Regions from separate parts of the Homo sapiens genome. Here region 1 is linked to region 2. The links come from fine-mapping of genetic effects on gene expression. Tissue or cell type: whole blood. Region 2 holds a variant in brackets; the other region holds the start of a gene. All regions are shown on one strand. Distances are from middle to middle.

The links. PIP is the estimated chance that this variant, and not a neighbour inherited with it, causes the effect.
Region 1: it holds the start of SCAF8, and the variant in region 2 is fine-mapped to the expression of SCAF8 in whole blood (TOPMed, PIP 0.93).

What each region holds. Positions count from the first base shown.
Region 1 is chr6:154,730,307-154,738,491 of GRCh38, forward strand. It overlaps SCAF8 (SR-related CTD associated factor 8), which reads left to right and starts at 3,110. Exons shown (of 20, transcript NM_014892.5): 1 at 3,110-3,624. The coding sequence starts at 3,595. RefSeq lists silencers at 2,743-2,982, 3,013-3,132, 3,283-3,882 and an enhancer at 3,143-3,646.
Region 2 is chr6:154,865,012-154,873,196 of GRCh38, forward strand. No RefSeq gene overlaps it. Among named protein-coding and RNA genes, the nearest start is that of MIR1273C, 16 kb to the left of the region's middle. The variant G/GT (reference allele first, on the strand shown) is at 4,660.

The DNA.
Region 1 (8,185 bases), 130 kb before region 2:
TTTTATGCTTAAACTAGCTCAAATTGGCTGGTTATACTGGCAATCAGAATCCTAGCGTACATACATACACACACACACACAGACACACACACACGGGTACTGTTTTCACACTCTGTATGTAGTTGTGTATAAATTTTGTATATAGTCATTGCACTGGAACCCCAGGCTCCCCTCTAACCCTTCTCTTGCTTTATCGCCTTCTTATATTAAGATTGTGTTTAGGCTGGGCGAGGTGGCTCATGCCTGTAATCCCAGCACTTTGGGAGGCCGAGGAGGGTGAATCACTGGAGGTCAGGAGTTTGAGATCAGCCTGGCCAACATGGTGAAACCCCGTCTCTACTAAAAATACAAAAATTAGCCGAACGTGGCGTCGGTTGCCTGTAGTCCTAGCTACTTGGGAGGTTAAGGCAGGAGAATCGCTTGAACCCGGAAGGCGGAGGTTGCGGTGAGCCGAGATCGCGTCATTGCACTCCAGCCTGGGCGACAAGAGCAAAACTCAGTCTCAAAAAATAAATAAATAAAAAATAAAAGCCGGGCGCGGCTATAATCCCAGCACTTTGGGAGGCCAAGGCAAGCGGATCACAAGGTCAGGAGATCAAGACCATCCTGGCCAACATGGTGAAACCCCATCTCTACTAAAAATACAAAAATTAGCTGGGTGTGGTGGCACGTGCCTGTAATCCCCGCTACTCAGGAGGCTGAGGCACGAGAATCGCTTGAACCCAGAAGGTGGAGGTTGCAGTGAGCCGAGATCGTGCCACTGCACTCCAGCCTGGCTACAGAGCGAGACTCCGTCCAGCCCCGCCCCAACACCCCGCAAAAAAAAAGATTGTGTTTAGGCTGCTCTCTGTATCTTCCCCCTCTGCTTACCCTGATCAAACTATGCCCTCTGTTACCATTCTGAATGCGGAAGCTTTATTAAATCAAATTGTGAAGCATGTTAACCACTGATTTTATCCTTTAGCTTGTATTGCATTTTAATTTCTCAGGCCTAAGTAATTCCATCAACACTCATTTCATGTATGACCTAATAAATAATCCCTCACAGGCCAAAGCAGCGCCTTTTTTTTCCGTTCTTTTCTTTTTTGTTTCTCTTTTTGAGACAGAGCTTCACTCTTGTTGCCCCGGCTGGAGTGCAGTCACGCGATCTCGGCACGCTGCAACCTCCGCCTCCCGGGTTCAAGCGAATCTCCTGCCTCGGCCTCCCGAGTAGCTGGGACTACAAGGGCGTGCCACCACGCCTGGCTACTTTTTTTGTATTTTTAGTACAGACGGGATTTCACCATGTTGGCCAGGCTGGTCTCGAACTCCTAACCTCAGGTGATCCACCCGCCTCGGTCTCCCAAAGTGCTCGGATTACAGGCGAGAGCCACCACACCCGGCCTCAAAGCAGTGACTTCTGATTGTGAGAACCTGGCATGCACAGAACTGAGTGCAGTACTTTCTCAAGCCACAGTAAATGCTCCTTTAGATGGAGTGATTAGGGGACCTCTTTCAGGAAGATTGAAGGAGGAGGAGTCAGCTATGGAAAGGACAAGAGCAACAGCACCCTGTGTGAAGAGACACAATTGTCCTACCTATGAAAACACTGCTTCTTGTCAAGTAACAGAAAGGCCAGTGTGGCAGGAGGAGAGTCAGGGAGCAAGGGAAGGTGGTGTGAGCTGCGGCAGGCTGGGCTGGGCCTTCAGGCCATGGTGAGAAGTTATGATGGTATCAAATGGGCAATGAGAAAGTATTTAAGGGATTTAAGTAAGGGAGTGACCTGATCTGATTTATCTAAGAAAAACATCCCTCGGCTACTGTCTGGAAATGAACTGTAGGAAGACAAGCAAGGGACCAGTTAGGAGGCTACTGCAAGTGTCAGTAAAAGATCATGGCTAGGCCTGAAGATGGGAGACGGTGGAGAAATCTGTGACAGAATTTGAGATTTTGAAAGTAAATATAAAAGCACTTGGTGAGTTATCCCTGTTACCTTCTCAGTAGCCAGGCCCTATACTAAAGCTGCCAATGAAGTAGAATGAAGGCTCTGAAACCTCAAGAAGGGCCTTACTTTCCCAGTTTCACGGGGCTCTGCGCACAGCTCTTAGGAACTACCTTGATTCCAAAACTCTCCAAAAGTACGATCCTGCCCTTATGTTCCTCTCTCCCTTTGAGTGAATTTGGGAATGATTGTTGAAAAATGACTTTCAACAAGAGGACAGCAGTGTTCGGGGTTCCACGATACATCCCTATCTTTTAACATCGATAAGTATTTTTAAATTGGTACCTTATTTTGCGCTGCACGAGAGAGAAGGCTTTTTACTAGCAGCATCTCCTAATCCATCTAAGAAATACTGTATTTACCTTTACTCCAAGTATCCTAGGGCAAAATTCCTTTAGAACAATTCATCTTCCGAAACAGACGGGTTCCCTTTTCACCTATTCAAGTGTTGTGCATTCTAGGGTCCCCTTCCCGCCTTGCAGACAAATGCGCTCATTGTGCCACTCCAGTCCCTGGATCCTATGCAGCGGGCATTTCCTGCAAGGAGCTGCTGCATGCCTGTTTCCCTCGCCGCCTGCCCCAACCCGAATCCAAGGCTTTGGTTTCTAATGTTCCCTCCCTGTGCAGTTAAAACAATTGAGTTCAGTTACTAAATAGATGACCAGGAACTTTTTCTTGGCGAAGGCTGCGGATGTTTAGGGCACTGTCCAGTAAAGTTGTGAAAAGCAACTAAACCCTGCCGCTTGTGCAAAAGGACCAATCCACCGGGAAACAAGGGAAACGCGCACATTTCCTCAACTTGCCGCTTCTTGGGCACGTTTAGGCTCTTATTAGAGCCGCGCTTTGGAGTTGCCTCCTCCTGCTGTACAAACCCGCCGCGGCGTTCCCCCGGATGCCGCAGCGCTCACTCCCGCGTCCGCGGGGCGCGGGGAGGGGGCGAGGCGCGGGCGGCCCCGGAGCCAAGGCGAGGGCAGCGGAGCCCAGCCGGGCCTACGGGCGGCGACGCTCTGGCCCCAGCGCGCTCGATGGTTTCCGCGCGGCCGCCGGGGCTCGCACGGTCCAGTCGCCAGGGGGCGCGCTAGCCGGCGCCGCGGATCCCCGAACTGCGCGGCCCGACTCGAGTCCGCCATATTGGATGCCGCAGCCGCTGCTGCCAGCGCTTCCTCCTCTGTCTTCGCCGAGCGGGGCTGGTTCCTGCGGCCCGAGCGGCGGGGAGGTGAAACAGGAGCCCGTCGGAGGAAGGGGCAGAAGGGAGTGGAGAGTGTAGGGGAAGGGGCTAGAGGGAGGGGGACCGAAACGGAGCGGGGCAGAGAAGAGAAGGCGCCGCGGCCCAGCCCCTCCCCCGCCCGCCGCCGACCCGCCCCGGCAGCGCCTCTGTTCCCTAGAACGGCGCTCCCCCCGCCCTAGCGGCCATGCCGGTGCCGCTCTGCCGCTGAGGGAGCCCTTCCCCGCCAGCGCGTGCCCTTCCACTCCGCCCCGAGGTCGCAGCGGCCCGCTCTCCCGCCAGCGCCCCCTCCTCGCGGCCACGCAGCAGCCCGCGTCTCGCTCTCCCCACCCAGTGCAGTGGCCGCCGCCTCTTCCGCCGCCGGGCTCGGGGCCTCCGCAGCGACAACATGGAGGCCGTGAAGACCTTCAATAGCGAGGTTGGTATGGCAGCCGGGTTCCCCTGCTCCTGCCCGCACCGCCCCCACCCCTGGTCGAGGCCGGGGCCCGGAGGGTGGGCGCGGGCCTGCGGGTTTTTTAAGGGTGGGGTGAGCGGTGGCCTAGCAGTGCCCGTGGGGGAGGGGTGTTTCTCCTCTGGGTGCCCCTCCCCCGGGTCCGGGAGGAGGGTTGGGGGAGGGCCGCCCTGGGGCGGAGGGAGGTTCTGGCGTCTCCGGCGTCCTATGGAATGGCTGCGAGCTCGGAGGGAAAGACCCGGTTGGGCCCTCACCCGGAGACTCCCGACAGGTCCCTCGAGGTCAGTTCCGCCGAGGCCTGGCCCGCCCACCTCCTTCCTGGGCCTTTGAGGATTTAAGTGGACGCTGGACATGACTCTCCAGACCTTCCCGGGTCCTCACTGAGGCTAACACCGATTGGGGGCGGTGGGGGAAATGAACCTACGGGGTGTTGATCTGTGGTCACGTTACACGTAGTGTTTATAATTGAGGCATTGTTGACTAGGTAATTTGCCAGCTAGGGACTTGAGCTAATTGGATGGTTGGTAGGCAGGCAAAGGTTATTCTGCAATATCTTTTATTTTTACTCGCTCCTCTTCTAATCCATCACGACATAAAGACAAATGGTAGGGAGAGATCTGTGCATCGAGAGATGGAAGATTATGGGGGAAACATTTCTCGCTGGTTCATTCACGTGTCAAACAAGATTTTAAAAAGCAGATTCCATTTTCACTGTGTAGTTGAATTTACTAGTCTGGAAGAAGACAGGTTTTGATGTATTCAATTTCTTTTTAAACTCCGACTTCAATAGGCCTTAATGTAAACATCAAACATAGCAAGTACACATCTGCACAGTCAGCATTAGTATCCCTACCCGTACGCCTTGGAAAGTGTAATTATGGCCGGGAACAGTGGCTCAGGCCTGTAATCCCAGCACTTTGGGAGGCCGAGGCGGGCCAATCACGAGGTCAGGAGTTCAAGACCAGCCTGGCCAACGTGGTGAAACCCTGTCTCTACTAAAAATACAAAAAATTAGCTGGGCGTAGTGGCAGGCACCTGTAATCCCAGCTACTTAGGAGGCTGAGGCAGGAGAATCGCTTGAACCTGGGAAGCGGAGGTTGCAGTGAGCCGAGATCTGCGCCACTGCAATCCAGCCCAGTGACAGAGTGAGACTCTGTCTACAAAAAAAAAAAAAAGAAAAAGAAAAAGTGTAATTATGCTGGTAACTAAATTAGCATAAATTTTATGAACTCTTAAAGTGCCAATACTTTATTCGATACTATGATTGTTAAAGAGTATCTTTAATATTTACCTCTTAAAATACGAGGCTTTTTGCTGTGACGGCCCAAATAGGACAGTACTTTTAAATGCCGTTGCATAGTTTTATCTTGTTTTAATTTCTTTAAAAAGAAAAACAGTATTTGGGAATCTTAGCTAAGAGGCTAAACGGTAGATAATATTTGGGCTATTTTCAATAGCAGTGATACATAACTTTTTTTGGAAAGCATTTTCTTTTTTAATACTACATTTTTTATTTTTAACATTGATAAATTAGAGCAATAGACTTGGGAATCTTCTTTTTTTTTTTTTTTTGAGACAGAGTTTCGCTCTTGTTACCCAGGCTGGAGTGTCACCATCTCAGCTCACTGTAGCCTCCACCTCCCGGTTTCAAGCGATTCTTCTGCCTCAGTGTCCCGAGTAGCTGGGATTACAGGCGCACATCACCACGCCCCGCTAATTTTTGTATTTTTAGTAGAGATGGGGTTTCACCATGTTGGCCAGGCTGTTCTCAAACTCCTGACCTCAAGTGATCCACCCGCCTTGGCCTCCCAAAGTGCTGAGATTATGGGCGTGTGCCACTGCGCCTGGTGTTTCATTTTTTTTCATAGCTATCTTTCTTTTTTTGAGGAGTGTCATTCTGTCACCCAGGCTGGAGTGCAGTGGTGTGATCTTGGCTCACTGCATCCTTTGCCTCCCGGGCCCAAGGGGTCCTCCTCTCACCTCAGCCCCCCAAGTAGGTGAGATTACAGGCCAGTGTCACCATGCCCGTCATTTTTATTTTTTATAGAGAGGAGGTCTTGTTATGTTGCCCAGGCTGTTCTTGAACTCCTGGGCCCAAGCGGTCCTTTCACCTTGGCATCCCAAGTGCTGGGATGACAGATGTGAGCCACCACGCCTGGGGGATTTCGTTTTGTTTTGTTTTTTGCCCTCATTGGATTTAATTCCCGCCGCCACCCTCTTCCCCACACACACTTTGTTGGGTGTCTGTCTTTGGGGGGGTTCCTAATAATGTGGTCCTCCCCCTCAAAGGGCCATCCAAGACTTTTTTTTTTTTTTTTTTTTTGGAGACGGAGTTTTGCTCTTGTTGCCCAGGCTGGAGTGCAATGGCGAGATCTTGGCTCAATGCAACCTCCACCTCCTGGGTTCAAGCAATTCTCCTGCTTCAGCCTCCGGAGTAGCTGGGATTACAGGCACCCACCGCCATGCCCAGCTAGTTTTTTGTATTTTTAGTAGAGATGGGGTTTCATCACGTTGGCCAGGCTGGTCTCGAACTCCTGACCTCAGGTGATCCACCCGGCTCGGCCTCCCAAAGTGCTGGGATTACAGGCGTGAGCCACTGCGCCTGGCCCATCCATGACGTTTTAAACAGTAGCTCCCAAATATTAGATGTAAACAAGTGGTTAGTGCACTATGGTTGGTCACAGTAGGGAAGAAATGTTAATTCCAGTTTTTCGTTTTAATATTAATTAAGGATAAGGGGGCCTAACATTTACATGTGTAGATAGGTGTTTCACCTGTTTTCTCATTTTACAGGAACTTGAGGTTTGTCTTAGTCCCATTTTAGTGTATGTAGCACTCTCCCATTTCCCCATATGGATTTCAAAGAACTTAAGTCTTGTAACTTCCTTATTTATTTATATGCTCTAACTTCACCGTGTTTCAAAGTGGAGTTAGCTTAAAAATAGCAGTACAGAGTCAGGGAGTTGAGGAAGGGAAATATATTTGAAGAAGATTCAGAAAAATACTTTTTTTTTTAAACACAAAACAATACATAATACTGTTTTTTATTTTGAATGCAGTTTCTGTGAATGTTGTAATATTTGCTGATGTGTAGTAAACATTGTTATTGCAAATAAGTATATGCTGAGAAGTAGTTCAGTAATGATTGTTTTCCATTAAATTATGTGTTACAAATTACAAAAATTAAAAAGGAATTCTAGTTGCAGGATTAGGAGAAAAGGATGTTTTCGACGCTCATAGTTTGGCTTTTAAAGGTGTTTATCTTTGGGTTTAATCCATCACAACTTCTCTGCTAAATTTAAAGGTATCTTTGAAACATTGAATTGTCAATTCCATTTGCTTTGTAAGGAATCAAAATTTAGCTCTAAGAATAATCAGGAACGTTTGTCAACAAGATATTTTGATACTTCACCTTAAAATATTTAAAATAGGCTGGGCTCGATGGGTCATGCCTGTAATCCCATCCCTTTGGGAGGCCGAGGTGGGCAGATGACTTGAGCTCAGGAGTTCCATGCTAGCCTGGCCAGCATGGCGAAACCCCCATCTCTACAAAACAACAACAACAACACAAATTAGCTGGTCACGGTGGCATGTGCCTGTAGTCCCAACATGGGTGAAGGGGGTGTAAAGGAGGGGGCAGGTGCTGAGGTGGGAGGATCTCATGACCCAGGAAGGTGGAGGCTGCAGTGAGCTGCACCACTACACTCTGGCCCGGGCAACAGTGCGACCCTGAATCAGAAAAATTGAGACAGGTACTCGCTGTTGACAGGTCACCACGCCGGGCTAATTGTTTTTGTTTTGTAGAGATGGGGTTTTGCCATGTTGCCCTGGCTGGTCATGAACTCCTGAGCTCCGGTGATCTGCCCACCTCCCCTCCCAAAGTGCTGGGATTACAGGCCTAAGCCGTGGTGCCTGCCCCAAATTAAATGTTTAAAATACAAAATACTTAACCTTTTATGGCTTGCTAAGGCTCAGGTTTTTCCAGACTGAATTTTGTCACCCCCATCTTTTAATTTTGTGGAGATCATTGGTTTGAAAACCAGGAAGATGCCAGAGACTTTAGGAATACAGATTTTTGTGAATTGTGGGTGTGTGTCTGTAGTCTTAGCTACTTGGGAGGCTGAGGTGGGAGGATCTGTTGAGCCCAGGAGTTCGAGGCTATAGAGTGCAATTACTGCACCTGTGAATAGCCAGTGCACTCTAGCTTGGGCAACAGTGTGAGACTCTGCTTCAAAAAAAAAAAAAAGAAAAGAAAACCCCAATAATACAGATTTTTAATCTGCAAACTGTGGATGAGTTTCAGCTATGAAAATCCCAGACTTCATGCAAGATATGTATGAGTTGTTTTTGTCATGTCTACCCTCCCTACCATAATTTCTCAAAGGAGTTGACCTTTCACTTCTGTGTTAAAAATTACTATGTCAGAAGATCCTTTAATTGTGCAGGAATTATGTGGTAAATTTTTCTTCTCACGAGTTAAATGAGATTTAGGCTCAATAATTTATTTTTTAAGTGCCCCATGCTAATT
Region 2 (8,185 bases):
CTTAACCAATTTTCTTTCTTTTTTTTTTTTTTTGAGATGAAGCCTTGCTCTTGTCTCCCAGGCTAGAGTGCAATGGCGTGATCTCGGCTCACTGCAACCTCTGCCTCCCAGGTTCATGCGATTCTTCTGCGTCAACCTCCCGAGTAGCTGGGATTACAGGCGCCTGACACCATGCCCGGCTAATTTTTGTATTTTTTTTTTTTTTTTTAGTAGAGATGGGGTTTCACCATGTTGGCCATGCTGGTCTCGAACTCCTGACCTCAGGTCATCCGCCCACCTCGGCCTCCCAAAGTACTGGGATTACAGGTGTGAGCCACCGTGCCTGGCCCTAGTTAACCAATTTTCTCCTGAGAAACACGTTTCCTGTTTTTCTGTTGTACCCAGTATCTGCAGTTTCCCATGGTGCTCCAGTCCTCTACTGAGGAGCATTTCAGCTGTTTCCTGTTCTCTCTGTTCTACCCAGTCTTGACAGAGTTTGGAAGGATGTTTTTCTTTTCTTAGACATGTTATTTTAGAGCACTCTCAGGGATTCAGTAGTCACATGGAATTTCTTGATGTAATGTTTTGTTTTGTTTTGAGATAGAGTTTTACTCTTGTCAACCAGGCTGGATTGCAGTGGCGTAATCTTGGCTCACTGCAACCTCTGTCTCCTGGGTTCAAGCAATTCTCCTGCCTCAGCTTCTCAGGTAGCTGGGATTACAGGTGCCCACCATCACACCTGGCTAATTTTGTGTTTTTAGTAGAGAGGGGGTTTTGCCATGTTGGCCAGGCTGGTCTCGAACTCCTGACCTCAAGTGATCCACCCACCTCGGCCTCCCAAAGTGCTGGGATTACAGGTGTGAGCCACCATGCCCGGCTGTGATTTAATGTTTATAATTTTAAAACCCATGAATGTTTTCAGGGAATTAGAGTTAACTTTTAGAAAATTGCTTTTGTAGTGTCCTGTGTTATCCTTATGTGAGTAAAGCATTATCCTGTAGGCTGAGAGTAGAGAGTACAAAACAGAGGCCAGGCCCTGATGGATTCACCATGAGGCTTCACTCTTTCTCTTCACCTTTCACTACTGAAAGCTGTTAGTATGTGTCTATTCACTATGTGATCCTAGGACATATTTTACTGATATGATTATTTGAGTAGGAGTTGTGTGGTGGCAATTGTGGGTTGTTTTTTTTGGCGGGGCCGGGGTAGGGGGTTGAGACAGGGTCTGGAGTGCAGTGGCATGATCTCAGCTCACTGCAGCTTTGACTGCCTGAGCTCACGCAATTCTCTTGCCTCAGCCTCCTGAGTAGCTGGGACCACAGAAAGGAACCACCATACCCAGCTGATTTTAAAAATTATTTGTAGAGGGGAGGTCCTGCTATATTGCCTGGGCTGGTCTCAAACTCCTGGGCCCAGGCGATCCTCCCACCTTGGCCTCCCAAATTGCTGAGATTACAGACATGAGCCACTATGCCTGGCCCAGCAATTGCTTTAACAGTGGTTAATACGGATATTCCTTGAGCCAGAAGCATAATTTTCCCCATCTGATGCCCAAAATATGAAAGGAAAGAGAAGACATTTACAGGTCTGCAGAAGCAGGGCCCCACAAGGTGGCTACAGATATTATTATGTGGGGCAGGGGTAGGGGAGGGAGGCAGTAGGGAGTTGTATGAAAAGTTTAGATCATTTTTTAGTAAAAACTCCATCTTTTAAGGGCGAATTATTTAAAATATGTCCTTATAGGCTGGGCGCGGTGGCTTATGCCTGTAATCCCAGCACTTTGGGAGGCCAAGGTGGGCAGATCACCTGAGGTCAGGAGTTCGAGACCAGCCTGGCCAACGTGGCGAAACCCTGTCTCTACTAAAAATACAAAAATTAGCTGGGCATGATGGTGCACGCCTGTAATCCCAGCTACCCGGGAGGCTGAGGTACGAGAATCGCTTGAACCTGGGAGGCAGAGGTTGCGGTGAGCCGAGATCGCGCCACTGCCCTCCTGCCTGGGTGCCAGAGCAAGACTCCATCTCAAAATAAAATAATGAAATAAAATATGTTCTTATAGTTACTTGTATAGCAGTCATATTTTCCCTAAGTGCTGGTTCCTTAGGAGCAAGGACTATGCCTTGTCACCCTTGTATCCCCAGCAGTGCCTTGCATGTAGTACAGCAAATATGGGCTGATTAATTAATAAACAGAAATAGTGAGATGTGCCATACACATATGCAAGTCCTAGTTATCAAAGTTAAATAAAAATGTCTTCATTTTTCCCAATTCATTACTCTTACTAAGCAATGAATAATTTCTTGAAAAGGAACTCTGTTACATGTATTCTGGGCAAAAACTGGCTAACTCACTAGTTCACAGCTATTTTTATTATACTTTGTTAAAACAAACAAAATGGGCAAGATTAAGGATGCTGTATTCTCCCGCTCTTGGAATGAAATTTGGTTTGAGTGTTCATCACTGAAAAGTATCATTTTAAATTCTTTTCTACTTCATTTTCTGCAGTGGAAAGTTACGGAAATACAGTTTGAAGGAAATAATTTCAGCCTACAATAATTAAAAATATTGCCATGGGTTTTTAAAAACTGATTTTCCTTTGAACTCTTGTACAGTATTTTGATGTGCATGACAAATAATGACATATATGGAGGCTGTCTTTGACGTCAGCATCTCACTTGGCATTGTTTCACATGCAGGTAAAACTTGCCTATTGGAAGTTTCTTTAAATGTAATAAACCTACCTACAGTTTATTTCTGATAGCCTTTGGGATTTAAGAGAGAAAACCAATACTTTAATTGTTTTAAAATCAAGGAAGCAAAATATCTGTGGGAAGGTGAGCTACTTAGCATTCAACAATGCAAAGTTTCAAAGCATTTTGCAAATTTTAAATATACGCTATAATTCTTCTATAATTGGTGTCTTTGGTACTTTTTGGGTAAATTGGAGTTATTCCAAAATAATTATATTTTATAGCACTTTTGACACCATAACACTTAGCAGCAGGATTTTTAAATTAAAGTACTGTTTAGTTCTTTGCATTCTGTGATATTATGTGTATGGACAACTTTAATTGAAATGTCTAATTCTGGTAGAGGAGGAGATCTCATTAATTGAAAATTATAAAAGGTTTCAAAAAGTAAGTATTTTTAAAATTGTATCTTTTCTTTTTGGTGTCCTTTTCAAAGAATAAATATTCTTAGTTGTGCCTCCGAAAATCACTTACGGAGCAAATTGCACTTCGGGATTCTATACTTGTACCAGTAGAGGTCACTGTGCACCTATAAAAGGAAACCCAGTGCTTGCTTCTAGGGATGAGCTAGTTATCCTAGAATGTTATAACTAATAACATGAGCTAGTTATCCTAGAATGTTATAACTAATAACAATCATTGATATTTCTGGGAACGTAACCAAATTCCCACCCCACTCCCACCTCACCTCTTAACAAAATCACTTGCCTGTTATCTATCACCTGAGAGTCACCTGTTACTGTCTGTCCACATAATGGAAGCGTATTCTGATGAGGTTAAGTAGAGCCCCGGCACACTGTCTCATAGTATACTTAGGTGAATCAGCCAAAGCACCAGAAACTATGATTTCACAGAAGCAGCCATTCAAACTCTCAGTTTCAGAGTTTGAAAGAACTTTAACATTCATCAGATTCAGCATCTGAGATGGGGTTGGAGACTTTTTCATCTATTCTTAACATTTAATTTGCAAATCCAAAATTGTTTCAAAGGTATTCTTTTCAGTACTGTCGTCCATTTAAGAATGAGATTTTACTTATTAAAACTGTTTAGACGTTTACAGTATTATAGTGTCCATGCTACATAGTGTTTGATTCTCTGAGTGTCCAACAAAATATTCGTAGAATATTGTTTTATATGATTATCGCCACAGAGGTTTCTGATAACAGAGGAGTATGTGAGAACTGAACAAAATGCTGGTTTGTTATAAAACTGCAATGGTGCCCTTACCAGATAGTCAAAACAAATGTGTAAATCTCCAATCAGCCTTGTGCAATGACCCAAGTTCCTGTGAAGGTGGCTGTAAAAGGTGATAAAGGAATGTCGTGAATGGAGCAAGCAGCGGGGAATCATAGACCAATGTGATTGGGCCTCAGTTTACAGAAGGAGAATACAATGTAGGTGCTTTCATGGTTCCCTTCAGCTCTAACACTCTCATCTTCAGTGCAGAGGGCACATTGCAGTGGTTAGCAACATGGGTCCTGGAGAGAGTGCCTGGATTTGAGTTATGACTCTGCCACTTAGTAGTCATGAGGTTATCTTATAGTTATCCTTTCTGCACCTGTTTCGACATCTGTAAAATGGGCTTGATACTAGTACCTGCCTCATAGCATTGTGGTATGCAGTCATTGAGTTATATAGGTAAAGTACTTAGAATAGTACATAGAATGTAGTAAATACTCAATCTGCTATAATTGCATACCCATTTTTTTCCTAAATAGAACTCATGCTGGGATATGGTAGCTGAATTCTTAAACCTCACTCTATTGACTGCTCTCTGAGGATCAAAACAGAGTATATTCTGTGTTTTCACTAACTCTTAATGAATAACATCTATGTCAAGGAACCAGATGTGTATAGAATCTTTAATGATTTAAATTTTCTCTACTTTTTTTTATTTAAAGCTCTTCCTGTGCTCATTCTTGTACAATGA[G/GT]TTTTTTTTTTAAATCTGGAATTTTTTCTGTGGAGTACATAATCACATTTTTAGTTGCTGTTTTTAGTGACTCATATTGATGCTTTTTTTGCAATTAAATGTCCTAGTTTCAGTGAAAGTCACAAAATACAGTATTTTTTTCAGTATTTCTCTATAGCATTCCAATTTTTATAGTATTTTTTCACATTAGAAATCTGTTAGGTCATTTATAAGGCATTTGTGCATTTGTCTTCAACAGACCCATTAAAAATTTTAAAGCAGTAATTTGATTATTCGTATTTGGACTCTCTATTAACTTTATTAACTTTCTTTTTTTTTTTTTTTTTGGTGGGGGTGGTGGGGGGACAGAGTCTTGCTCTGTCACCCAAGCTGGAGTGCAGTGCGCTCCAGCTTACAACCTCCGCCTCCCAGGTTCAAGCGATTATTGTGCCTCATCCTCCTGAGTAGCTGGGACTACAGCCGTGCGCCACCGTGCCTGGCTAATTTTTTTGTATTTTTTTAGTAGAGACAGGGCTTCGCCATGTTGCCCAGGCTGGTCTCGAACTCCTGAGCTCAGACAGTCCGCCCGCCCCTGCCTCCCAGAGTGCTAGGATTACAGGCGTGAGCCACCATGCCTGGCTTAACTTTCAAATTCTATGTAATCAAAGTTTATTACCCACATACCAATTCGTAGTGAGGGAAACCAATATCTGGCACAGAAATATATAGACACATTTTTGTAGGTATAAATTTGGTCTTGAAAGGTGAGACTGATACTAGCTAAAATTTTTATGTTCACTATATACTTTTAAACCCCGTATCCCTAAGCAATTATCTACATAGTCACTGCCTCTATGTAGGTGGGATAAACCAACTGTAGTGAGACATTTTGGTTCCAACTTGCTATCATCTATTATAGGTAGGTGAACTGGCAGAAAAATTACCCAAATGTGATGTCTCATAAACATCTGGCCTTTCTTTAGGGATGGTCAGGTTTCCCTAGACTAGATGGAAGGCCATGAACTACACCAACTTTCTGATTAACTTAAGAGCCATATATTTCTTAGGCCAAGGGTGTTAATAAGGTTGACCATGGTATTCCTTGAAATTATATGCCGTATTACCATAATACCCAAAAATCCGTGCTCAGATTTTTTTATTTTTTTAAAGATGGAGTCTTGCTCTGTTGCCCAGCTGGAGTGCAGTGGCGCGATCTCGGCTTACTGCAGCCTCCGCCTCCTGGCTTCAAACAATTCTGTCTCAGCCTCCCGAGTAGCTGGGATTCAGGCATGTGCCACCATGCCCGGCTAATTTTTGTATTTTTAGTAGAGATGGGGTTTTGTCATGTTGGCCAGGCTGGTCTCAAACTCCTAACCTCAGGTGATCCACCTGCCTCGGCCTCTCAAAGTACTGGGATTACAGGCATGAGCCACCACACCCGGCCTGTGCTCAGATTTTTAAATGAGTCACATGTGTGAATACTCCCTCTCACCACCTCCCCCCCACCCCAAAACACACACACACAAAGGTGAAACAGCCTGGAATAAAACATTCCGTAGTACAATATGATACCAGCTATTTCTTAAACATGATTGTATTTTAACTTCTATAAATCAGCTATCAAAGACAGAAGTAGGCCTCTTTTTTGTATGTTTCCCCCAGCTATATTAGGGTCTGTTATGTGTAGTGAGTCCAGAATGCTGAATTATGTCCAATAATCCAGGTGGTCTAATGGCTAGGAGACAGAAGGAACTTCTCCTGGAATATATGGCATCACCACCTGTTTTATAAATCTAAGTTACAGGTTGGTTTTTTTACAAGATAAAAAAAAATCGGCTGGGCAGGTGGCTCACACCTGTAATCCCAGCACTTTGGGAGGCCGAGGTGGGTAGATTGCCTGAGCTCTGGAGTTTGAAACCAGCCTGACCAACACGGTGAAACCCCCGTCTCTACTAAAAATACAAAAAATTAGCCAGGCGTGGTGGCACGCGCCTGTAATCCCAGGTACTCTGGACGCTGAGGCAAGAGAATCGCTTGAACCCGGGTAGCGGAGGTTACAGTGAGCCGAGATCGTGCCACTGCACTCCAGCCTGGGCTACAGAGTGAGACTCCATCCCCCACAAAAAAAAGAATAATTACTTTTCACTGCTTTCCAGGTATTTTATAAGTTTAATAACTAAGACTATTGGAGAGAACTTATTTTAGTTAACAGAGTGACATTGTATTGAGATATATTTTGCAAATAATTTGTTTATGGAGGCTCAGGAAATAGAACACTATTTAGGTCACTTTTCAGTAACTTTTTTCCACTATGATAAACTCTTGTAACTTTTGGAATATTAAGGTTTTTTATTGTTGTTATTGTTTTAGACAGGGTCTTTCTCTGTCGCCCAGGGAGGAGTGCAGTGGCATGATCTTGGCTCACTGCAACCTCCACCTCCCGGGTTCAAGTGATTCTCCTGCCTCTGCCTCCCGAGTAGCTGGGATTACAGGCATGCACCACCACTCCTGGCTAGTTTTTGTATTTTTAGTAGAGTTGGGGTTTTGCCATGTTGGCCAGGCTGGTCTCGAACTCCTGACCTCAAGTGATCCACCTGCTTCGTCCTCCCAAAATGGTGGGATTACAGGTTTGAGCCACTATGCCCGGCTGGAATATTTTTACTCAATATTTTCCTTCTTTAAAATGCTTAAATAATACAGTAATTTTATTGCATATTAATAGAAGTATTTGAAGGCAAAAATTAATTTCTTAAATTTATGCTTGGGGATGACTGGCATTTCTTCTGGGTATATGGAAGCTCTAAGCTTGGAAAATACTCTGTATCATTTTAAAATTCTAAACTTTTAACCTGATTAAGACTTGAATGAATGTATCATCCCTACACTGAATGCATTCATTTATTCAGCAAACACATAGGCACCAGGCACACGCTAAAAGAAAGCAAGGTCTCTGCCCTTGAGGAATCCACAATGCAGTCAGGAAGGTAATTACTGGACAGAGTGATTGGCGCCATGGCAGAGATGTGGCAGCGTGCTGTGGAAATGCATCCATGAACCGTGGAAAGGGGTGGAGTAGGGAAGGCGATTAGAGAAATTGGCACTTGACGGGCGTCCTGCAGCTTGCTGGAAGTGAAGTGCATTTGCAGGGGTTACTGGAAGGCATGAAAGGGTATGGAGTGAATGGAGGGCAGGGAGTAGCTCTGCTTGGCCCCTCCGGTTGTGAGGGGCCCTCACTGCCCAGCTAAGAGCTTGCAGTTTCTCTTGTAGGCAGTAGGAGTCTATCAGCAGCAGGTGCCCTGGTTCAGATTACAGATACATTCTTACCTCCTTAACTAGCAGAGTCATGTGAAACAGGAGTGGTCTCAGGAAAAAGGCTGAGAAAGCCAGAAATTGTCTTTCAATTCCCCCTCTATTTTGGGTCCCAGTACCCCTTTCTGCATTTTGGAACATCATCTCCTTAACCACCAGAGCCTTTATCACCTCCCCAGCCTTGATCAGAAAGGATCATATGCAAGGTCAAAGGGAGAAAGAATGATTTTACCTTACC